7 linked regions of the Homo sapiens genome follow. The protein of the gene in region 1 purifies or fractionates together with the protein of each later gene. This does not show direct contact. Each region holds a gene or a part of one and is shown in the gene's direction. Other genes may lie near its edges. The genes, in order: GOLGA8G, ARK2N, MOB4, SLMAP, ZBTB10, SLBP and STRN.

Region 1 (3,500 bases):
CCTCACCTGGAGGGACCCCGGAGCATGCAGCATGGCTCTTTTTTTGCTGCCCTGTTTGCTGACTCTCCCCTCTCCAGACGCCCCTGCTCGAGTCCTTGCTACACACGCCCTGGGATTGTTGCCTCTTGGGGAAGTGCTAGCCTGACTGGTTGTCAGGGGCCCCGTATTTCTGCCATGACTCAGTCCCTAATTTGCTCTTTGATTCTGGACAAGCCACCTCTCCTTTTTGGGCTCATGTTTCCAGAGGAAGTAGTGAGTATCAAAGGTCTCTGTTAGCTCTCGAGTCTGAGATTTAAAGGCCTCCTAGAATGGAAACCTCAGGGCCAAAGGCTCCTGTCTGTCCTTTTCCGCCCTAAATCTTCTGTGAAGAACCGTACTTGGCCCGTACGTGCTCAGTAAATGTTTATTGAATGAATGCACTTTTCTAAATCACAAGCTGGCAGAAGGGGGGGCCTTTCTCAAACTCCATCTCTAGAGGTTTATGTTACTGTCCTGTCAAGAGATTCCAGATTCAGACCTTGAGTTCTGTGGCTGTGGACAAAAGCCAACAAAGACCCAAATCCTCTGTCCTTGGGAGCTTGAGGAGAGTTTACCAGTTCGAGTTCCCACTGGGTCTGAGAACTTTGCCTTTAAAATCCATTCCTGGCCCCTGCCTACCACTTCCTGCTCTGGGGAATAGAGTTGAGGGGGCCACCCTCCATCACCTTAATGTGACTCTCCCCACAGAAACAACAGAATAAACAAGTGGAACATCAGCTGGAAGAAGTAACATGATTTCTTTGTTTGCTCGCGACATGACTGCTCGGTTTGGGGGACACTCAGATGTAGAGGCCCCGAGTCTCGTCTCACCCACTCCCAGCCTGGGGAAGAAGGCTCACCCCCCAGAGTCCACCCCATCCCCCACAGGGTCCCTGATAACCCGGTCCCATGGGTGGGCCTGTCCCGGGGCAGGGGCAGTGGTGGCATTCTGGGGACATGTCTCTTGCAGTACCATCTCTGCCTCTGCCTGGTTAGATCTCTGTCTTCCTCTTCCTACAGGAAAAGAAAGCAAACAACGAGAAACAGAAAGCCGAAAGGGAGCTAGAGGTGAGTGGACGGTGTGCAGTTTTCTCCTGTCCTCCGGAGAATGTTTCTTTCCTTCTCTTTCAGCACTTGCTTGGCTTTTCTCCCAAAGGTTCAAATCCAGAGATTGAACATACAGAAAGGGAAACTAAATACGGACCTGTACCACACGAAACGTTCTCTCAGATACTTTGAAGGTGGGAATCTGGGTACCCTGTCATCCTTCAACCTGGCACTTTGACAGGTCTTCAGGGGGAGTCCTTTGGGCCCCATCTCAACTCTCTCATTACAGAAGAGTCCAAGGATCTGGCCGTCCGTCTGCAACATTCATTGCAGCGTAAAGGAGAGTTAGAGCGGGCTCTCTCTGCTGTCACCGCCACACAGAAGAAGAAGGCGGAGAGGGTGAGTCCAACCACCTGCCCCGTCCCCTGGGAGCCTGGCTTCGCAGACAGAGGAGTGAGCCTAAAGGTCCCTTCTGCAGGATGGAGTGTCCTGCCCAGAAGGCAGCATGGCCATTTCTCACTGCTTTTTTGTATGGTTGTTAGCGGCAGCTTGGGACTGAGTCAGCTGCTGTGGGTGAGTTGGGGGGCACTCTGGGGAGAGAGCACAGGACGTAGAGCTTGGAGGCCAAGTGCCTGCCATGCCTTTACCTGGCTGTGGTCTTGGCCAAGTCCTCAGTGGGTATTGGGTACTTGTACTGTGAAGGTACAGAAGAGTACCTTTAGTATGTTACCATTTCTGTAGAGAGAGGAAACGTGTGTGTGTGTGTACATATTATGATAATATACATAAAATATGTTTGCAAGTGTTCATAAAAACTCAGGAGAGAGCAACAGGGTGGCTGGGAGATACTTCCCTTCTGTACCTTCTGAGTTTGGGACTATGTGAATGTATTATCCTTTCAAAAAGTGAACAAAAGATTAATTTTCCCCTTCCTAGCTGTGCCCCCACCCCCAGCAAGAAAAATGGGCTTAGAGAATTGGATAGATCTGGGTGTTTAAATCCCAGCTCTGCCTAAGTGATCTTAGGCAAGCACTTAACCTCAAATACTCCATGTTTTTTCATCTACACAATAGAGGTCATCATAGTAACTGTCTCCCATGGTAGTTGCGAGGATTAAATGGGATTGCTAGCATGGTATCTGGTGAAGCACTCCATAAAAGTTCAAACAGTGGTAATAATAACAGTAATAACAATAGCAATATTATCTGATCTCTCTGGGCCTCTGTTAGCCAGCTATAAATTCGATCTCTTTCCCTGTCCCTTCCAACTTTACTGAGTTCTTTAAAAACCAAACCACGGGCTTGGAAATGCCTTGATCTTTACTGACCGAGTTGTATATTGGGCCTAGCCCTGGCCCTTTTAAGGGGCACTGTGTGGAATGGCCCGGCCTCACCAGATTGAAACTTCTCACTCTTCAGCAGTTCTCCAGCCGCAGTAAAGCACGTATGGAGTGGAAGTTAGAGCAGTCCATGCGGGAGCAGGCACTGCTGAAAGCGCAGCTGACACAGGTGAGGTGTTCAGAGGGAGGGATGTGGAAGGAAGATGACCCCAGGTAACCAGGAGCAGGTGAGGACCAGTGACAGCCCTTCCTAATTTCTGTGCCCATTCTTGCAGTTGAAGGAGTCACTTAAAGAAGTCCAGCTAGAGAGGGATGAATATGCTGAACATCTAAAAGGAGAGAGGGCCCGGTGGCAGCAGAGGATGAGAAAAATGTCGCAGGAGGTGAGATCTGACCCTTCAGCCCCCCCACATTAGATAGGTCACTGGATCTTTCTGGGCACCTGTAAAATGGGAATAGTAGAGCCAGAGGTGGTCCTGGGACTGGGCTTTGTGGAGGTGGGGGCAGAGAGGGAGATGGTAGCATGTCCAGCCTCCAGCCCCTCTCTCCAGGGCCCTTTCCCCCTGTGCTTTGGGCAGGTTTGCTCGTTGAAGAAGGAGAAGAAGCATGATAAATATCGGGTAGAGAAGCTGGAGAGGAGCTTGTCCAAACTCAAACACCAGATGGGTAAGATGGGGCTGGCGTGACCTGGCAGCAGGACTGGCATCAGAGGGCTGTGAGGGTGGCTTGGAGTGCCCCAGCGAGGTGGGTGGATGGAAGGGCTTTGAGGCAGAGGGAAAGAGGTCTGTGCCAGGAGACGGCAAGTCTTGTCATCTCAATGAGCCTCAGTGTCCCCATCAGCAAAGAGGGCCCGTTGTCAGCCACCCGCAGTGCTCTTTCTCTGAAAGTGCTTTGGAAGACTGGCTACCATCTGGGTGCGAGGAATCATTAGCAGTGAGGCTAAGTTTGAGGAGCCGGAGAGGAGCTGTGCGCCAAGAGGAGGGTTTTTTCTTTTCTTTTCTTTTCTTTTTTTTTTTTTGGAATCCAGAGGCTCTTATTGTCTGCTTCCTTTCTCAGCTGAACCTCTGCCCCCGGAGCCCCCAGCAGTGCCCTCTGA
Region 2 (3,500 bases), on another chromosome or scaffold:
ATGTCTGACACCAACTCTGACCCAGAAGTGGTAAATGTGGACAATTTATTGGCGGCTGCAGTAGTTCAAGAGCACAGTAATTCTGTAGGCGGCCAGGACACAGGAGCTACCTGGAGGACCAGCGGGCTTCTAGAGGAGCTGAATGCAGAGGCAGGTTGGTCTTCCCCATCCCCCTTCTCTAACGGTGTAATATGCATGTGTCCTGGAGCTGTTTTCCTTGTAGTGGACCCTGATGAGGAGAACAGGTCATACCAGAGACATCTGGCATTGAATGATTGGTTGTGACTATCCAGGCTGCCATTTATACCTGAAACAATTTGGATAGCTTGTCATTCATCTTTCCTACTCAGAAGGAAGTAGAAATAAGAGCATTTAAGACATTAATTGTAGGTATTGGTAGGTTTCAGTAGGCATATTTCTTGGATTAAAAATGCCCAATATTTGCAAAAATGACCCAGATATGCTCATATTCTTTGGCCAGTTCTTTCTCTCACTTTAATTCTGGGTAGTGACCTTGCAGCTTGGATAGGGAATCGTTGAATCTCTCCCTGTGGGGCTGGCTGTTCATACACAGCGCTGCCGCTGTTTCTTGTGCTTCTTGCTGTGGAGTGACCCTGTTAATTCCTCGTCAGTAAGTTCTCATTTGTCTTTTCTAACTCCTTTCTTTTAGTTTCTGTCTCTGTTAGCTCAGGAAAAAAAATCTCTGTCCCTGTCTTACATTTTTTTAGTTTTGTGATTATTCTTTAAGGTGGTATTTATTCACTAAAAAATCCACTGCTGTTACCTTTGAAAAACTTTCACAATACCTCCAAGTCTTCTTCAATATTTTCTTCAAAAGTTTCTTTCAGCATTCTAATTTAAACCTTGTTTTGTTGTTGTTGTGAAAATACTAGCACTGAACATTTAAGAAGAGAAGGGGATTGAGAGACTGCTTATGCAGTGTATAATTTCTTCAGTGTTGCTGAAAGATTATAGTTTTCTAGTTAATTTATAAATGCATTGGTTTTATGAGTTAATCTAATAGTTTAATCACTACCTAAAGTTATTTTTATGAAAAATGAGTTTTACAAAAAAATGAGTTATAGTTTAGAACTTTTTATATTGAGACAGAACTCCATTGATTGTTGTTGTCTTAAATTATTCCTTTCATAATCTTTGATTGGAATTACAGAAAAATCACTTGTTTGTTGACCTGATTGATTTACTGTAGCTAATTTTGGAACTGAACCTGAATTTAGTTTTGATTTTTTTTGACTGGTAACTGCTGCCTGTTTGTCCTTGGACCAGTTGTTTCTCCTCTGGACTTCAGTTTTTATATGTATAAATCCTTGTTTTGCCCAACAAGTGTCTTTTAAGGATTTATTAATATGTATTAATACAAATACTTTGAAAAGAAGTAATAATGCTTCTGGGCACAGTGGCTCACGTCTGTAAGCCCAGCACTTTGGGAGGCCGACGTGGGAGGATCACTTGAGGTCAGGAGTTCAAGACCAGCCTGATCAGCATGGTGAAACCCCGTCTCTATTAACAATACAAAAATTAGCTGGGCGTGATGGGTGTGGTGGTGGGCGTGGTGGTGGGCGCCTGTAATCTCAGCTGTGGAATTGCTTGAACCTGGGAGGCAGAGGTTGCAGTGAGCTAAGATTGTGCCACTGCACTCCAGCCTGGGTGACAAAACTAGACTGTATCCCCCCAAAAAAGAAAAAAGAAGTAATAATGCTTTATATCAGTGGAAAGTAGTTTGGCCACATTTTGTACAATATGTGTTTCTAAGTTATTTATTTATTTATTTATTTATTTGAGATGGAGTTTCGCTCTTGTTGCCCAAGCCAGAGTGCAATGGCGCGATCTCAGCTCACTGCAACCTCCGCCTCCTGGGTTCAAGCGATTCTCCTGCCTCAGGCTCCTGAGTAGCTGGGATTACAGGCGCGCACCACCACGCCTGGCTAATTTTTTGTAGAAATGGGGTTTTACCATGTTAGCCAGGCTGCTCTGGAACTCCTGACCTCAGATGATCCGCCTGCCTTGGCCTCCCAAAGTGCTGGGATTACAGGCGTGAACCACTGCACCCAGCCTTGTAATTTGTATATTAGATGGTTTATCTTTGTTTTTCATCCTTTGGCAATTAAGTCATCCATTCCACTTCAGTTTTATTTCTCTGTTTTCTGAGTCTTGCCGTTAAATATAGACCATTTTATGGTAAAGTTTTGGGGTAAAAAATGAATGATTACCAACGTTTTGCTCTTCATATGCAGAATTCTTAATATTAGATTGAACCGTATGGAATTGTTAATATTTGACTTTTTGACCTACAAAAAATCAGCCATTTCTTATGACTTGACCGAATAATGCAAAGTTTGCGGTTTTAAAATATCATTAAAGTTTAGCTTTTGGGATGGCATTCACATTTTCAGATTCAAGTAATTGTTAGCCTATTTAAAAATCACTCTTAAGAAACTACAACCATTCTTTTTAAGAAATAAAACGTGGTAAAAGTATGTGAGGAGGAAAACAACTGTGGCTTCAGATGTTTTCCTTCCCTTTGCCCTTCCCATGCCAAAGCTATCCTAAATTGGATATTTAATGTGTGGTATTCCTGTGTATTTCTTTATATATTTGTACTACATTTGTTATATATCTAAATAAGCATGTTTTTAAAACTAATTGGTATCACATTGAAGGTAATCATTTGAAATGTGCTTTTTTAGTTAAACATTTTATGAGTTTTGTTGTTGTTATGTGTGGCTCTAGTTCATTCATTTTCCACTGCTATTTAGTATTCCACTATATGAATATATCACAATTTACCCATTCTCTTGTTGGACATTTAGGGTGCTATTTTAAGTGATACTGCTCTTAACATTTCTTTATGTGTTTTTTGGTATATGTATATGATAATTTCTCTAGGATATAATTAATATATAGAGAGAGCATTTGTGCATATTGGACTATAAATTTTGTGTAGGTTTCTGTATATCATAGGATGCAGTCACCACTGCTCAGCAGATCCCCATGACATTTTGTTATGAAGCTTATTGGCTCTTTCAAAGGCATTTTTTTTTCTTAAATCTGACAATACTGGTATGTGGGTAATAAATAAAAATAATACTGTAGTCTTGATGTGATTATCATAGTGGAACTCATCTTGTGAAGATATCTGAATGTGCTTACAGTGTCTCAATAAAATATTAATAGAATTTATGCTTAGGAGCCAGTTAATAGTTTTGAGGCTTGGACTATTAGTCAGATGGTCATTCTTATGGTGTGAGTGTAAGTTAAAATTTTAATGGTTAATCTGGGTCCTGTCTTTCCCTTTCACAACAAAATAGCAAGCCTAGTTATTGAGCAGACTATTCAGGGGTTCACTTTAATCAACAGCAGCATCTCAACCCAGGTCCACAGCCCCATCCCATTTAGGATCACATAGGTACGCACTAAAGATAGAGTAGGTTGCCTTTTTCCAAGCAATTAGATGATTATCTTGCATCCAAAATATATAT
Region 3 (3,500 bases), on another chromosome or scaffold:
TTTAAAATCCAGTATGTATTATGTGGAGTGAAACAAGTCAGATGCAAAAGGACAGATACTGTAGCATTCCACTTATCTAGAGTGAATAAATTCATATAGACATTTGAAGGTAGGTAGAAGCTGCCAAAGGATGGGCGGTATGGGAAGTTAGTGCTTAAGGGTAATAGACTTTTTTCTTTTCTTTTCTTTTTGAGACAGAGTCTTGCTCTTTTGCCCAGGCTGGAGTTCAGTGGCGCAATCTCGGCTCACTGCAACCTCCGCTTCCCAGGTTCAGGCGATTCTCCTGTCTCAGCTTCCCAAGTGGCTGGGATTTACAGGCATGTGCCACCTCGCCTGACTAATTTTTGTATTTTTAGTAGTGACATGGTTTCACCCTATTGGCCAGGCTGGCCTCGAACTCCTGACCTCATGTGATCCGCCCACCTCAGCCTCCTAAAGTGCTGGGATTATAGATGTGAGCCACTGCGCCCAGCCGAGTTTCTTTCTTTTTTTTTTTTAAGAGACAAGAGTTTCGCTCTGTCGCCCAGGCTGGAGTTTCACTCTGTTGCCCAGGCTGGAGTGCAGTGGCACAATCTTGCCTCACTGTAGCCCCCACCTCCCAGTTTCAAGCAGTTCACTGCCTCAGCCTTCTGAGTAGCTGGGACAACAGGCGTGCACCACCATGCCAGGCTAATTTTTGTATTTTTAGTAGAGACGGAGTTTCACCATGTTGACCAGTTTGGTCTCAAACTCCTGGCCTCAAGTGATCCACCTGCCTTGGCCTCCCAGTGTGCTGGGATTATAGGCATGAGCCACCATGCCTGGCCATAATAGTTTCTGTTTGAGAGTTGGAAACAGTGAAGATGGTTGCACAATATTGTAAATTAATGCCACTAAATTGTACATTTAAAAATGGTCAAAATAGCTGTCTGGGCGCGGTGGCTCACGCCTGTAATTCCAGCACTTGGGGAGGCCAAGGCGGGCGGATCACGAGGTCAGGAGATCAAGACCATCCTGGCTAACACGGTGAAACCCCATCTCTGCTAAAAATACAAAAAATTACCCGGGCGCTGTGGCGTGTGCCTGTAGTCTCAGCTACTTGGGAGGCTGAGGCAGGAGAATGACGTGAACCCTGCAGACGGAGCTTGCACTGAGTGGAGATCACATCACTGCACTCCAGCCTGGGCAACAGAGTGAGACTCCGTCTCAAAAAAAAAAAAAGGGTCAAAATGGAAAAATTTGTGGTGTATATATTTTACTACAATTTTTTAAAATGTTAAGAAAAAAGCATCAAAACCCCAAATGGCATATACTTTCATACCCACTATAATGGCTAAAATAGGAAAGATAGACAATAACAAGTGCTGACGGGGATGTGAAGTGGAACCCCTAAACATTGATGATGGGATTGTAAAATGCTTCAGCTATTTCAAAAAACAGTTTGGAAGTTCCTTAAAATGGTAAGCATAGAGTTGCATACGACCCAGGAATTCCACTCCTTGATATGTAGTTCCCCCAAAATGAAAACATTTATCTGCACAAAGACTTGTACATGAATATTCACAGTCACATTATTTATGATAGCCAAAAAATGGAAACAACCAAATATCCATCAACTGATGAATGGATAAGCAAAATGTGTTGCAGCCATCTCTCAGTAGCCTCAGAGGATTGGTCCCAGGACCCCCATGAATACCAAAACCACAGATACCAAAGTCTCTTATATAAAATGGCATAGTATTTGCATATGACCTATGCACATCCTCCTATATACTTTAAATCATCTCTAGATTACATATAATACTGAATACAATATAAATGCTATATAAATAGTTGTTATACTGTATTTCTTAATTTGTATTATTTTTTATTGTTATGGGGTTTTAAAGTGTAGTTTTGATCTGCAGTTGGTTGAATCTGCAGATGCAAAGTGCTGACTGTATGTGTACAATGGAATAATATTCAGCCATGAAAAGGAATGAAGTCTTAAAGGGAGAAACATACAGTACGGCATTTTGTATATATTAAAAACATTAAAGGCTAAAAAGTTTTGAATTTTAAAAAAAGGAATGAAGTACTGATTCATACTACACCATGGATAAGCCTTGAAAACATAATAGAAGCCAGACACAAAATGCCACTTATTATATTATTTCATTTTAATGAAATATCCAGAATAGGCAAATCCTGTGAAACAGAAATTAGGTTGGTTGTTGCTTAGGGCTGGGGGAAGGAGAGAATGGGAAGTGACTGCTAATTGGTTCAAGGTTTCTTTTTGGGATGCTGAAATGTTCTGAAATTTAGTGGTAATGGTTGCAGAATTTTGTGAATATACTAGAAACTACTGAATTTTTAAGAGTAAATTTTAGTTGTATCAATTATATCTTAAAAGTCAAAAAGTAGCCCATTAATTTTATATCAATTACCTGCTGAAATGGTATTATTTTGGATATAGTGGGTCAAACTACAATATTAAAATTAATTTCACCTCTTTCACGTTACCTTTTTATTTTTTATTTTTTAATTTTTATTTTTGAGACGGAGTCTCACACTCTTGCCCAGGCTGGAGTGCAGTGGCGCGATCTTGGCTCACTGCAAGCTCCGCCTCCCGGGTTCTTGCCATTCTCCTGCCTCAGCCTCCTGAGTAGCTGGGACTACAGGTGCCTGCCACTGCGCACAGCTAATTTTTTGTATTTTTAGTAGAGATGGGGTTTCATCGTGTTAGCCAGGATGGTCTTGATCTCCTGACCTTGTGATCCACCTGCCTCGGCCTCCCAAAATGCTGGAATTATAGGCGTGAGCCACTGCGCCCGGCCTCACGTTATCCCCTTTTTAATGTATCTCTTAGAAAGTTAATTAATTAATTTTTTGAGACGAAATCTTACCCTGTTATCCAGGCTGGAATGCAGTGGCCTGATCTTGGCTTACCTCCCTTGACCTCCTGTGCTCAAGCAATCCTCCTGCCTCAGCCTTCTTGGTAGCTGGGACTACAATCATAGTGCCACCATGTCTGGCTAATTTTTCAAATTTTTTGTAGAGATAGGGGCATTTCCCTGTGTTGCCTAGGCTGGTCTTGAACTCCTGGACTCAAGTGATCTTCCCACTTTGGCCTCCCAAAGTGCTGGAATTACAGGCGTGAGCCACCACATTGGGCCTAGAAAATTTAAAATTAAATATATGGCTTGCATTATACAGTTGACCCTTGAACAACTCCGGGATTGGGATCCCAACCCTCTGTGCAGCTGAAAATCTGAGTATCTAACTTTTGACTCCCCCAAAACTTAATTACTAATAGCCTACTGTTGACTGGAAGCCTTACCGATAACAGTCGATTAACACACATTTTGTATGTTCTGTGTATTATATAGTGTATTGCAATGAAGGAAGCTAGAGAAAATGTTATTCAGAAAATCATAAGGGGCTGGGCGTGATGGCTTATGCCTGTAAACCCAGCACTTTGGGAGGCTGAGATGGGAGGATCGCTTGAGGCCAGGAGTTCGAGACCAGCCTGGTCAACATAG
Region 4 (3,195 bases), on another chromosome or scaffold:
GGATGCCCATGTTGGCTGCCCTGGTTGCAGTAACAGCCATCGTGCTGTACGTGCCAGGTCTGGCCAGAGCTTCTCCATGAGAGCGTTCCTTGAGTCCGTACACCGTCCTCCCTCTAGAAGCTGGCATCACACTCATGCTGGGGACAAACAGAACCATTTTCTTCCTCTTTACCTCTTAAAACAGCAGAAGTACAAGAATACAGCTGTAGGGTCATTGCTTTAAATTATATAAAATGTATCTGTCTATAAAGAAGATATAAAATTGTGACTTTATTCTACTGTAAGCAATAATTTGCTTGCAATTTTTCATGTAATTTTTAAATTAGTATGTTAAGATTCTGAATATTATGGTGGCCTAAAGTAGGCTTCTTGGTACACCAGATTATTTATAACATTAAATTTATGAGTATTTTACTCTGAATTCTGATCACCAGATAATTCATTTTTCTGATTTGATAACTACCCAAACCAAACAACCAATACATACATGGGAAGAGAGGCCCTGTGTGCTCAGTGCCTATCAGTTTGAAATATATACACATATATATATTTTTTACATATTTACGCCATTTTTACTTGTTATGAAACCACTGAGCTATTGGGAACAAGACTTAGAGACAACTATTTGCGTGGATTTTTTTTTTTTTAAGGAAAAATACGTTTGGAAAATAAACTGTTATGGTGATAATTTGGGGAATATGTGCACGCTTGTTCAGCCTTAATGTGACTTGAAGATGTGGAGGACATCAACTTTGAAAAACTTTCCATGAGAGTGTATTTTCTTGAGCAAACTGAAGTATTTCTGGGAGCAAAAACATAGTAATTACACAATTTCAGTGCAGTCAACCAAAATGTTGAGTCAATTGGAATGTAATTTATTAAACCATGTATTTAAAGAGATATTTTTCTTTAAAAGCCAAGTTACTTTCTCATATACAGCATTTTAGGAAGCATGATTTTTTTTTTCTATCATCTATTCCTCCAAGCATGTTTAATTGAAGAAAGTATTAATATCTCTTTAGATAAGCTTGTATTGACCTAATTTGGTTTATGATGTGTCAGAGCTAATTCATGTTCAGGGTGAGCGTTGTACCTACCAACAAATTTCCTGGTTGGGTATGCAAATGGTTATTTTCTTTTTATTGTTGTTAATTGGGACTTTCTGTTAATGAAAAGCACTATTCCCAAGATTAATAGTGTTCTATGCACAATGAAGCACCTAAAAACACTGCTTGATATTATAAATTTAAAACACAAGTGAAAGTTTAGCCATGGTTTTGTGCGGCATCATAGTTATGTCAATAAAGTTTATTTAGGTCATAGAATATCCTAAAGTATCACATAGTTAAATTTTTCAGTCAGTGAAGACCGGGAGGGAATGTCAGTGAATTGGCTTGAATGTTCTGTGGCAATCCACAGGTCTAGCCAAATATTGAAATAGGAGTTTAGGGTATAATTTGCCTTGTGATGTTTGGCAGTCACTGTTTATACTTTAAAGGTTATATTTTAAGCTATTTGAGATTGCTTTTGGGAAGATCACTAGATTTATGGAGGAATTAGTCACAAATGACTTGTAGAAAATACTGTCATATAGTTCATTTCATCATTTTCTGTTGCAGGAAGCCACTCCACCACAGAATGCTAATATGCCAGTGGTACCCAGTACCTCTTGTATATAGGTTATTGCAAATATTGTTCTGAAATGCTTAACTTCAGAATTACATTTTTTAAAGTAAATAATTGTTTTAAATCTATTTTGTAAAGATATAAAGTACAATAGAATTTCTGGAGTACAGATTAAACTATTTGCACTAACACACGTGACGTGCATGATTTAATAAAATAACTTTACTCTCCCTACGCATGTTTGAGTTGAATATCATTGAAGTTCTTAATGCTGACTCTACTATTGGGTTGTTAATAGTCTTCTCTTGACATGACTCTTTATGCAACATAACATACATTTGGTATTCTTCAGGGTTTAAAAGAAAACACTGAGCTGTTTCCTCCAAGTTTTATTAACCTTTTATTTAACTTACTGCTTTATTTTTTTCTCTTTTAATATGGTTATTGTTAAAATGAGAGTCACTTGCTAGACTGGTCTCTTTAAATGTAAGGTCTAGTATCAATATTTACTTCATTCAAGTGGAATAAATGGCTTTTTGTAGTTACTTCCAGTTTTCCTCAAGAATAGAAATAAGTCTGTTCATAAGCAATACCTTCAGTTTTGTTCAGTTCACTTCCACGTTAAATAAAGAATAGGATTATTCACTGGTAATAATAGAGTCATTAAGAAATATTAAGCATTGCAGCTAAAAATTGAACAACCCTGTAATGATACATTTAAGAATTATTCAAAGGTGCTACATGGCAGGGTTAGAGAATAAAAAGAACGTGGTGTTTGAAGCAAAACAGATCTGTATTGGCATCTTGGTTCTACCTTTTATCAGATGTTGTTGCCTTGTGCAAATCACATTTTCTCTGAGTCTCCATTTTCTCATTTATAACATGCGGAGAATAATACTTATATTTGTGGTAGTAGTGTGAACATTAAAAAGATAATGTATGTGAAGTACCATTCGAGTGGTGAATACGTTTTTATGAGAATGTCATACTGAAAAAATATTGCAAATATTAAAGTTTTAGGTAAGCCTAAACTTTAATCTACTTTAATTAAATGAATTGATTGACTCAACCATTCAGAATTTCTGTGTATGAGTGAGATATGTGTGTAACATTATGAATCCTGAGAAAGCATTATCACCTAGCTCTGTTTGTCGCCTTCATAGTTCACTCTTTTGGAAGTAATATGCTTGGTTTGGTGATGAACCAATTGCCCACAATGGTTTTGGAATTCCTGTTGTTATTGCCTTTAGAGCCACTTTGAGTCACATGTGAAAACCATTCACGTTGCCCTATAGTCAGAGGCTTTCAACCAAAACTAGTATTGCCTACTTGATCTCTCACTTTAATCACTACACTTGACCAAAATCTGGTGACTCTTGGCTGCTTCCAGTGACTATCTACTATCAAAAGGATGGGAATCTGCTACCAAAGAGAAAAAACTGCATGCAAATCAACTGAGTTAAAACTGCAGTCTTGGCTGGGTGCAATGGCTCACACCTGTAATCTCAGCACTTTGGGAGGCCGAGGCAGGTGGATCACCTGAGGTCAGGAGTTGGAGACCAGCCTGGC
Region 5 (3,500 bases), on another chromosome or scaffold:
CCATGATTCAACAGTCTCAAAAATCTTACAAATAAAATTCTGAGAAGCTTTATTATTCTATAAATTCTTCAGGGTACAAAGGGTGACATATTGAGGTGAAATTGTCAGATTTACTTAGCCTGGTGACATGAATTAGCTGATTGTGGAACTCTCAGCAGCATTTCACGTATTGTTAACATGTATGGCATTTATTAGCATATTGTATATTATATAAGATTGAGGGATGTCATATTTTCAGCTTTCTTTTAAATAAAAATTGAGTATATTTTCCTATTTTATATCAGGTAACTAAATTATGCTAGTTATGTGGAAAAAATTGCAAAGATGCTTTGACAGATATAATCCCTTTGGTGCTCCATCTGATCAAAGTTGAAAAGTTGATGTTTTTTAAGAGACAAGCTTTATCATTGTCTCTGATTTCAGTAGAATAATGGTTTATTGTTAGACAATGATGTTTCTGCTTGGATAAATCAAAGATAAATTACAGTTACATGGTTAGATGCATCTTTTGTCATCTATATTGTAGTTTCTACATAACTGTAAACCTGACAGATAAGAATAGTTTCGGTTTGATTTTTGTTTAAAACAGATGAGTACTTCTTAATGTTCTAGACAAATGAGTAAAATGTATTTCTGGTAGAAATTAGTTGGGCAAAGATACTATGAATGAAAAAGTATTTTAAACGTAAAATGTTCTTTGTGAATATGTAAGTATAGTATAAAGATTTCTTTCATCCCATTTATCCCCTTCCTTTAAATAAACTAGTTTACAATTGGTAGATCTGTCTATATATAAATATATATTAAAGAACAAAGATATATATCTAAAAATCACCTAAATCTGCTTTATTAGACTACAGTTCACTTATTGCATAGAAACTGGACTTGGCTTTACATTCTTAATGTACTTTTACTTTTCCTCAAGATATGAACTTACTCTCTTGAAGCTGAATTTTCTTTTACTACTTAAATCATTTATGTATATCTGGTAAATTATGACCAAATTTTTGTTAGATTGCATACAGTAAATTGAAATACACACTTGGTACACTACGGGATTGTTGTGCTTTTGTTTGGTTTTAGTTGGAAATAAGGTTTGATGTAGATGGCTTGTTACTGTTAATTTAAAATATTCTATAATTGTCCATTACTTTATGTTGTGTTGTGACAGATTTGGCTATATTTTTAGTCAATTGAAATATGATACTTTAAAAGTTTGTTTTTAGGTAATCCAAAGGAAAAGTGTTTATACTCTTGAATATATTAGCCTCAGCCTATATAAAAATTTCTTTGAAGTAAACATTTTACCGGAAACAGAATTGACAGATTTTTCTACTTGCTGACTGCCTAACTTATTTTGTTTCATGATCTCGAGGGACTGCCTTTTCCCATCTAGATCTTTTAAAAAAATAGTTTTAGTACTAAGGTATACTACTGGACATTTCTATTTTTTTAAGTGTATTCTTTTTCTGACTTACAGTAAAATTTCAGGAAGTTGATAGATACTAAGAACTTATGATTGGTCTCAGAGGTAACAATGAAATACTCATAATTTTGTCTGTGGAACTCTGGCAGAATTATGTTACACATTTGGCGAAGTTGTCTCTTGTAATTTATATTTTAAATGAAAAAGTATTTTAGAGCTTTTAATGAAGGGGAAGAGTATAAACTTTCTTTCATATTCACTCTGTAGTTACAGACCGTCTCATAAATCAAGATTGTGCATTATTAGAGTTCTCAGAGACAGATACTTCCATATGGACCCCTGTTCATTTTTCTTATTTACTAGATATTTTGCTAAATTTAGCACACTAGCAATTAAGAGTTTAAAAAAGAAGAAACGTTATAGGAAAGGGAAACTGAACAGTAATGAGTAGCTTTGAAATTGGGGAAAACACACTAGCTGGGTTAGGTACAGCTATCCTAATGGAGAAGAGTGAGCTAAATGCGTTAATTCATGTAAAGTGCTTAGAACACTGGTACATAATAGGTGCATAACACATCTTAAAGTTGTTTAATAATAGATAAGAACCAAGAGGAAAAAGAAATAAGAAAAGATGGGGGAAAGGAAGGAGAAAATAGGAAATGAAAGGATTAGGACTTGGGCATTTATATTAATACAAAATGGTGTAAACGGCCTGAATATCACTGTAGTAGTATCATACGGGGGAAAGTGTGATGGAAAATAGGTTTAAAAATCTTAATTTTTAAAACTTTAGTAAGCTTTATTTATATTTTTTAGGATTTTCTGAACATAGCATGAAGGGTTTAGATTCATTTTTCTGAAAAACGATTAAAAAAACTACCAATTTTTTTTTTGAGTGCCCACACTTGCCGTTGTGCTGTATACATGATTTTACCTTAATCCTCTATAAGGTAGGTGCTAATTGTCTCCATTTTATAGATGAGGAAAGGCTCAGAGAAATTCAGAAACTTGGCTAATTTAACACAGCTGTGACAGAGCTCGAATTTGACCACGTCTGATTCTGAAGCCCATACTCTTTCAGGGAGGCTCTATTGCTGCCTCATTAAACAACTCTTGTAGAATTTCAGCTCTTAATGGAGTCTATGGATTATATTTTTCCTATAAGACAGCTGTGTTTAGAATTTTGAGTGTCTTTCCTCCCCCCAATAAATTTCCTTACTACTCTTTCTTCATAAAGCAGTTGTTTTGTCACTTTGACTATATTAAGACACATCAGTGTAGCACATGCTCTTAACTGGCTGTGGCATTTTAATTTTATAAAAGAATGGTTTTTATCTGAAGAACTAGATAGAAACCCCAGTTTTTGTGCCGTTCAGTCACCCAGATCCTTAAACTTAACTATGGTACATAATATCCACACTTAGAACTAACAGGTGTTTAGTCACTTTAGGACTTAAAATGGAAAGTTTTTTTTTTTTTCCTGCTGTATCTCTGCTTTCAACTGAAGTTAAAGAATTCTAGATAGTTTAAAATGTGTTAGGGATAAGCACACTTCAAAAGATGTTTTCTAGCCCTAAATTTTATGACATTGGGTACTTAAATTTGGAGTACACTAGCTATTGAGAACAATATTTTGGGTTGAGGAGAGATGGTTGAGGCCATTATTTAGTGGGAGCATTGGCATTTTGAACACTGTAAACAAAAGAACACTTCCGCCTGCTGTTTGTAAAAGCTCTTTGGGAAGATCTTTTACGAAGACCAACTTTTTAAAATGTAAATTACCTACCTAATATAAGTGTCCTAAGACATGTATGTAAACTTCCGGAACTGTTTTGTCTGTGTATTTAGAAAATACACAAGAATCTTTATTCAAACCTAAAAATATAAACTTGTGAGCACTAAACTGCTTCTGGCTTTGTGAATTTTATTGACTGACATTTAATTCAGATTTCTTTGCAAGTGTACTAATTTAGACTAATTGGGGTAAGGGGAACACCTTAATGAACTTTGACTTATGTATAATTCAGATATCTTTGTACTTAAGGCTTACAAGTTTGAATTATGGAATACTATA
Region 6 (3,500 bases), on another chromosome or scaffold:
GAGACTTTGTCTCTTAAAAAAAAAAATTTTACTTTTGGCTGAGTGCAGTGGCTCATGCCTGTAATCCCAGCACTTTGGGAGGCCGAGGAGTGCGGATCATGAGGTCAGGAGATCGAGACCACCCTGGCTAACACGGTGGAACCCCGTCTCTACTAAAAATACAAGAAATTTGCTGGGCGTGGTGGCACACATTTGTAGTCCCAGCTACTCGGGAGGCTGAGGCAGGAGAATCACTTGAACCTGGGAGGAGGAGGTTGCAGTGAGCCGAGATTGCACCACTGCACTCCAGCCTGGGTCACAGAGCAAGACTCCATCTCAAAAAAAACAATTTTTTTTTTTTTTTTTTACTTTTTTGGAACATAGCTGGCAAAGGAATAGTAAGATTCAATGTGATGGTGCTTTTTTTTTTCCCTCCTGACCGAGTCTTGCTGTTACCTAGGCTGAAGTGCAGTGTTATATCATGTCTCACTGTGTATTCATTTTTTTGAGACGGAATCTTGCTCTGTTGCCCAGGCTGGAGTGCAGTGGCGCAATTTCAACTCCACCTCTCGGGTTCAAGCGATTCTCCTGCCTCAGCCTCCACAGGCGCCTGCCACCACACTTGGTTAATTTTCGTATTTTCAGTAGAGATGGGGTTTTACCATATTGGCCAGGCTGGTCTCGCACTGCTGATCTCGTGATCCGTCTGTCTCTGCCTCCCACAGTGCTGGGATTACAGGGGTGAGCCACCACGCCCAACCATCATGGCTCACTGTAGTCTTAACTCCTGGCCTCAAGCAATCCTCCTACCTCAACCTCCTGAGTAGCTGGGACCAGCGGTGCATGCCGCCACACCTGGCTAAACTTTTAAATTTTTATAGAGATGGGAGTCTCCCTATGTCGCCCAGGCTGGTCTTGAACTCCTGGCCTCAAGTAGTCCTCCCAAAGTACTGTGATTACAAGCGTGAGCCACTGTGCCCAGCGGATAGTGATTTTTTTGAGACCGAGTTTCACTCTAGTCCAGGCTGGAGTACAATGGTGCAATCTTGGCTCACCGCAACCTCCGCCTCCCAGGTTCAAGCGATTCTCCTGCCTCAGCCTCCCAAGTAGCTGGAATTACAGGCATGCGCCACCATGCCTGGGCTAATTTTTTTGTATTTTTAGTACAGATGGTGTTTCTCCATGTTGGTCAGGCTGGTCTCGAACTCCTGACTTTGGGTGATCTGCCTGCCTCGGCCTCCCAAAGTGCTGGGATTACAGGTGTGAGCCACCGCACCCGGCCCGGATAGTGCTTTTTAATTTTTTAATTTTTTTAAACATATTTGTTCATTTTGTAGGATCTCAGTTGATTTTTTATTTATTTATTTATTTTTGAGACGGAGTCTCCCTCTGTCACCAGGCTGGAGTGCAGTGGCACGATTTTGGCTCACTGCAACCTCCGCCTCATGGGTTCAAGTGATTCTCCTGCCTCAGCCTCCCGAGTAGCTGGGATTACAGGTGTCTACCACCACGCCTGGCTAGTTTTTTGTATTTTTAGTGGAGACAGGGTTTCACCCTGTTGGCCAGGCTGGTCTTGAACTTCTGATCTCAGGTGATCTGCCTGCCTCAGCCTCCCAAAGTGCTGGGATTACAGCGTGAACCACTGTGCCCGGCTTTTTTTTTTTTTTTTTTTTTTTTTTTTTAAGGTGGAGTCTTGCTCTGTTGACCAGACTGGAGTTGCAGTGGCATGATCTAGGCTCATTGCAACCATCGCCTCCCAGGTTCAAGCAATTCTTCTGCCTCAGCCGCTGGAGTAGCTGGGACTCAAGGCATAAGCCACCATGACTGGCTAATTTTTGGTATTTTTAGTAGAGATGAGGTTTCATCATGTTGGCCAGCCTGATCTCAGGCTCTTGAGTTCAAGTGATTTGCCACACCCAGCAGCGTTTGTTTTTTTTTTTTTTGGAGGTGAAGTCTCGCTGTGTTGCCCATGCTGGAGTGCAGTGGCACGATCTCGGCTCACTGCAAGCTCTGCCTCCCGGGTTCAGGCGATCCTCCTCCCTCAGCCCCCTAATAGCTAGGATTACAGGCACAGGCCACCACGCCCGGCTAATTTTTGCATTTTTAGTAGAGACGGGGTTTCACCATGTTGGCCAAGCTGGTCTCGAACTGCTGACCTCAGGTGATCCACCCACCTTGGCCTCCCAAAATGCTAGGATTATAGGTGTGAGCCACCGCTCCCAGCCCCTAGCTGTTTTTTTGTTCTGTTTTGTTGTTTTTTTTAAATAGAGACGAGGTCTCACTGTGTTGCCCAGGCCATTTTTAAATTCCTGAGCTTAAGTGATCTTGGCATGACCTCCCAAAATGCTAGGATTACAGGCATGAGCCACCATGCCTGGTGATCTGTAATATTTAAAATAATACTAATCTCATAGTTTGGTTAATCTTCAGGCTAATGTGGAAATGTGAGTGGCATGTGGGCATGTGCTAGAATAATCTTTCTCCTGTAGACACCTTCGACAACCTGGCATTCATCCCAAGACCCCTAATAAATTTAAGAAGTATAGTCGACGTTCATGGGACCAGCAAATCAAACTCTGGAAGGTGGCTCTGCATTTTTGGGATCCTCCAGCGGAAGAAGGATGTGATTTGCAAGAAATGTATGTCTTTATTGCATTCTTGTCCTGTGATTCTCTGATTGGTCCAGTGACTGGAGCAGCTGCGCACCACTGGGACAGGAGGTCTGGTGCCAAGTCCCCCAGCAGCTGTTGGGGAGCAGAGCAGCTGCTGCAGCTCGGTGCTGAGTTCTTCTGTACTGGGAGGGAGGCAGCTGGAAGGAAGAGTTTGCTTCCTGGATTGAATTTATTTTTTCAAGCAAAGTCAATCTGGGAATACAGTTTTTGTTTGTTGTTTTGCTGTTTTTGTTGTTGTAGTTGTTTTTCCCCTAAAAATTACAATAATCTCTGGAATTTGTTTTTTAAATATAAATATCCTAAAAAGTATTTGAGTCATTTCGGCTCAACCATGAAAATAAAAGTTCTTAATTAAGGAAGGAAGGCTTTCTTTCTCTGTTGGCTTTTTTTTTTTGGGAGATGCTCTGTCACCGAGGCTGGAGTGCAGTGGCGTGATCCCGGCTCACTGCAACCTTCACCTTCTGGGTTCAGGTGGTTCTCCTGCCTCAGCCTCCTGAGTAGCTGGGATTACAGGCACGCGCCACCACGCCCAGCTATTTTTTGTATTTTTAGTGGAGACGGGGTTTCACCATGTAATTCCTGACCTTGTGATCTACCCGCCTCAGCCTCCCAAAGTGCTGGGATTACAGGGGTGAGCCACTGCTCCCAGCCCCGTTGGCCTTTAAACTTGTGCCTAGTTGAAATGTCTCAGGCCTGAACTTTTGCTGCATCATGGCAATACCTGCTGACCAGGAAGGTAGAGAGAATGATCGTGTACCTCCCTCCCTCTATGTGGGGTTTCTTCTCAGCTCCCCTCTGGTCCTGAGCCTCTCGCTTCCTCAGACACATTCTTTAAACAAACAATTAGAG
Region 7 (3,500 bases), on another chromosome or scaffold:
TTTATGTACATTTATAACTATACTGTTTGAAATAGCATTTGAGCTGTTATGGGTCAAGTTTTATTTTATACTAAATGATTAATTTTCAATTCTATTTGAAGAAAGCCATATTTATTCTGAATAGGAAATTCTATTTTTCATTTCTCGTAATTTCATATTTTAAATCAACTTAATTTTATATTAATAGTATGATTTGGTACAGCTCAATACAGATCATGTTGTGGCACTCAGAATTCCAAACCTGAAGCTTCTTATTGGATGCAGGAAGTCAGGAAATAAGTGCTTTTTCAGGTTATGAAGAAGATATTACAGACTCTTTTTTGGTTTTTGGCTTTCTTAACCATTGCTTTCTGTCGTTAGCCATAATCTAGACAATCACAGTTTAGGTTGCAGTTGATGAAGAATACGACATACATATACTCTTGTTTTAATCTGAGAACTAGCTTTAAAAGTGATGATATGTTGTGTGTGTGCACATGCATGTGTGAACATGTACATGCATATGTTTACATATGTTCTTGTGGTGTTCTCACTCTCTGTCTCTCTCTCTCTCAAAAAGTTTCTTTATTCCTTTGTGGTTTTCATCATTTTCCCTTCCTAACCTGTTGTTCATTGTTTTCTTCTGATATGCTGAGACTTGTTTGGGGAAGTAAGCATGAATAGAACTTTGAGCTACTTGGATGTAAACGAGAGAGACAGGAAAATAAATTAAACTCAGGTGATAGAATTGGAAAAGGAGAATTTTTTTCAGCAAGAAATTACAGGTTTTAGACTCTCAATAAATTTAAAATCATGTTTAAATATATGACTCAAAGCTACAGTAGCAAAATAAAAAACTAATATGAAATTAGAAAGGATGAGAACATTTTTGTAATTACCTTCAGAGATTATATGGCCAATTTGTGAACATCCTGAGTGGAAATAGTGCTTTTTAATGACTGCAGGTTAATAAGATGTCAAGTCTGGTAGATAAGATGGATAAAGAGAACTAGGCGAGTGAATCCACATTTTCCCCCAAGAGATGTGACTCTAAATTAATAGGACTTTTTACTTGACACTGGAAACATTTTGAGAAAACTTCCAAGAATGTTTTTAACAAAGGCAACATTACTGGAATAAATGATCATTATTTTGAGTTGTAATATGTCCTGACATTTTCTAAATTATGTTTTTTACTTTTAAAGTTGTATAAAGAAAACTTAAATTAGTCTCTTATTATGTTTTACTGTGAACTACCCCTTGTTATTTATAATTGATTGTGTTGTTCTGTTTTGGAATTTAGCATATTTTTTTAAAAAAATGAAAGGACCAAACAAGCTTCAAGGAGAAAGTGAGTTTTATATAGAGTTTAAAGTGATGAAGGATGTTTGTTAGAATAGGAATAAATTACCCTTCTTCTCATTGATGTCAATGGCGATTTGACTGTGGTAAAGTCAAAGGTAGTTGAAGCAGATACGTCACAAGCTAGGTATGAGTAGTGTTCTTTGCATTCTGCCGACTTCTCTGATTTATCATCAAGTGGAGAAGCTTCCTTAAAAGTGTTACCAAATAAGAACTTTCTTTTGCCTGTTTCCATGATTTGATTTCAATCATATTTATTTTCTAGCTCTCAAAGCAATTGAGGCTATTCTCTGAAACGTCTCTCTCAGAATATATGGGATATTTCACTTAAAGTATTTCTTTTTTTGTTGTTACTGTTATTCTCTTGCTGGACTTTACCACGGGTGTTGCTCAATGGAGTATTATCTGTGGAGGAAATAATGCGTAGTCTGAATTTTATAAATAAACATCTCTTTGTTTAGGATCTAAACCAGGTGTAACTGACTAAGAACTTACTCCACATGGTCAAGTGAGTTTTTGTTTTATATTTATTTTTTTTTGAGACAGAGTCTCGCTCTGTTGCCCAGGCTGGAGTGCAGTGGTGCGATCTCAGCTTACTGCAACCTCCACCTCCTGGGCTCAAGCGATTCTCCTGCCTCAGCCTCCCAAGTAGCTGGGACCACAGGCGTGTGCCACCATATCTGGTTCATTTTTGTATTTTGCGTAGAGACAGAGTTTCACCATGTTGGCCAGGCTGGTCTCGAACTCCTGACCTCAAGTGATCCGCCTGCCTCGGCCTCCTAAAGTGCTGCGATTACAGGTGTGAGCTACCGTGCCCAGCCACATTTTATATTTAAATAACAGGCTGGGTAATTACCTGCCACTAGCATTGGGAAAAGACTGTCTTCAGTTTTTAAGATGTTATATTTCTAGGAGCCACATGAAAATCCTGTAAGATTAGACTATTTTTAGCTGTATTTTCTATTATGTGAATATAAACTTGTAATACCTATTCTAGGGTTCAAAAAATTTTTTAAACTCTATTTTGAAATAATTTTAAACTTGCAGAAAAGGTACAAAAATAGTACGAGAACTTCTGGCTACCCTTCACACATATTTAGCAGTTTTTAACATTTTGTCACATTTGCTTTTTCACTCTATATATGTGTATAATTTTTAATTCTGAACCATATGAGAGACGTCATGCTCCTATTCCCCTAGATCCTTTAGCGTGTAATTCTAAGATCAAGGGCATTCTCTGATGTAGTGTATTACAATGATCAAAATCCGGAAACTTAACATTGACACAATACTATTATCTGAATTACTATTTATATTCAAATTTTGAGAGTTGTTCCAGTAATATATTTTACAAGGACACCCCTTCCTCTCCCTGGACCATAATTTAATTTTTAAAACTTTGACATACCTTCAATTAGTGTTTTCTTTATGTCAGTTTTTCTTTTCTCTTAAAAAAAGCTTAACAGAAATCACTGAGGTTTTAAATTACTGATTTCTTTTTAATAAAAGCCTTTCAGGAAGAATGTGTGATCATTTAGGAACCAATTTTGACAGTTGTGTGATCTGCATGAACCATCAGGTTGGGAGAGAGTCAGAAGTTAGAATAGGTACTGATTTTGTCACCTGATTGTGGAGGAGTCACAACTTTTTCTGAACCTTGATGTGTTCACTGTAATATAGGCTTAATGATATGTGCTTGCCTGTCTCATTGTGTGTATAATTGAAGTTTCTTTGGAACTTACTAACACAAAAAATACAGTTAGGATGCTGACTTTTAGGATTCCAAACCTAGTTCTGTCAAATGACCATTTCTATTATGATGAGGAAGAGTGATAAAGGGATTTAAGGATTAAGAAGCCCTCTTTGTCATATATATCTTTAGATGATAATGATGTGATACAGAACTTTGTATGCAAAAAGAGCTGAGATTTAAATTTGAGAATTATCTCCATGTAAGTGATGATAGAACTTACTTAAAGTAGCAAAATCTCACAGAACATTGTAGAATGAACAGCGTTAGTGGCTCTAGACTAAGCCATAGATGGCACCCACATATAGCAGGAAATTGTAATTTATAAATATTTCCAGATTTATCAGGCAATTCTCTTTCCTAACATTGAAATTTTGAAAACAGTCACAGAATAAATGAACTAAAGACA

Evidence for each region.
Region 2: the proteins of GOLGA8G (region 1) and ARK2N purify together in Homo sapiens (affinity purification with mass spectrometry; one large-scale study listed by BioGRID and IntAct). This does not show direct contact.
Region 3: the proteins of GOLGA8G (region 1) and MOB4 purify together in Homo sapiens (affinity purification with mass spectrometry; one large-scale study listed by BioGRID and IntAct). This does not show direct contact.
Region 4: the proteins of GOLGA8G (region 1) and SLMAP purify together in Homo sapiens (affinity purification with mass spectrometry; one large-scale study listed by BioGRID and IntAct). This does not show direct contact.
Region 5: the proteins of GOLGA8G (region 1) and ZBTB10 purify together in Homo sapiens (affinity purification with mass spectrometry; one large-scale study listed by BioGRID and IntAct). This does not show direct contact.
Region 6: the proteins of GOLGA8G (region 1) and SLBP purify together in Homo sapiens (affinity purification with mass spectrometry; one large-scale study listed by BioGRID and IntAct). This does not show direct contact.
Region 7: the proteins of GOLGA8G (region 1) and STRN purify together in Homo sapiens (affinity purification with mass spectrometry; one large-scale study listed by BioGRID and IntAct). This does not show direct contact.

The regions. Positions count from the first base shown.
Region 1 is NC_000015.10:28,526,472-28,529,971, reverse strand, and holds part of GOLGA8G (golgin subfamily A member 8G), read left to right. Parts: intron 1-726; coding exon 727-765; exon of another isoform or gene 766-1,038; coding exon 1,039-1,086; intron 1,087-1,174; coding exon 1,175-1,259; intron 1,260-1,354; coding exon 1,355-1,464; intron 1,465-2,483; coding exon 2,484-2,573; intron 2,574-2,679; coding exon 2,680-2,787; intron 2,788-2,982; coding exon 2,983-3,070; intron 3,071-3,460; coding exon 3,461-3,500.
Region 2 is NC_000018.10:46,240,034-46,243,533, forward strand, and holds part of ARK2N (protein ARK2N), read left to right. Parts: coding exon 1-154; intron 155-3,500. UniProt on the Homo sapiens protein: AMPK substrate important for exercise capacity and skeletal muscle function.
Region 3 is NC_000002.12:197,543,566-197,547,065, forward strand, and holds part of MOB4 (MOB-like protein phocein), read left to right. Parts: intron 1-3,500.
Region 4 is NC_000003.12:57,927,309-57,930,503, forward strand, and holds the end of SLMAP (sarcolemmal membrane-associated protein), read left to right. Parts: coding exon of another isoform or gene 1-80; 3' UTR 81-2,695; downstream 2,696-3,195. UniProt on the Homo sapiens protein: Associates with the striatin-interacting phosphatase and kinase (STRIPAK) core complex, forming the extended (SIKE1:SLMAP)STRIPAK complex.
Region 5 is NC_000008.11:80,520,726-80,524,225, forward strand, and holds part of ZBTB10 (zinc finger and BTB domain-containing protein 10), read left to right. Parts: 3' UTR 1-3,500. UniProt on the Homo sapiens protein: May be involved in transcriptional regulation.
Region 6 is NC_000004.12:1,695,320-1,698,819, reverse strand, and holds part of SLBP (histone RNA hairpin-binding protein), read left to right. Parts: intron 1-2,468; coding exon 2,469-2,618; intron 2,619-3,500. UniProt on the Homo sapiens protein: RNA-binding protein involved in the histone pre-mRNA processing.
Region 7 is NC_000002.12:36,851,537-36,855,036, reverse strand, and holds part of STRN (striatin), read left to right. Parts: intron 1-3,500. UniProt on the Homo sapiens protein: Calmodulin-binding scaffolding protein which is the center of the striatin-interacting phosphatase and kinase (STRIPAK) complexes.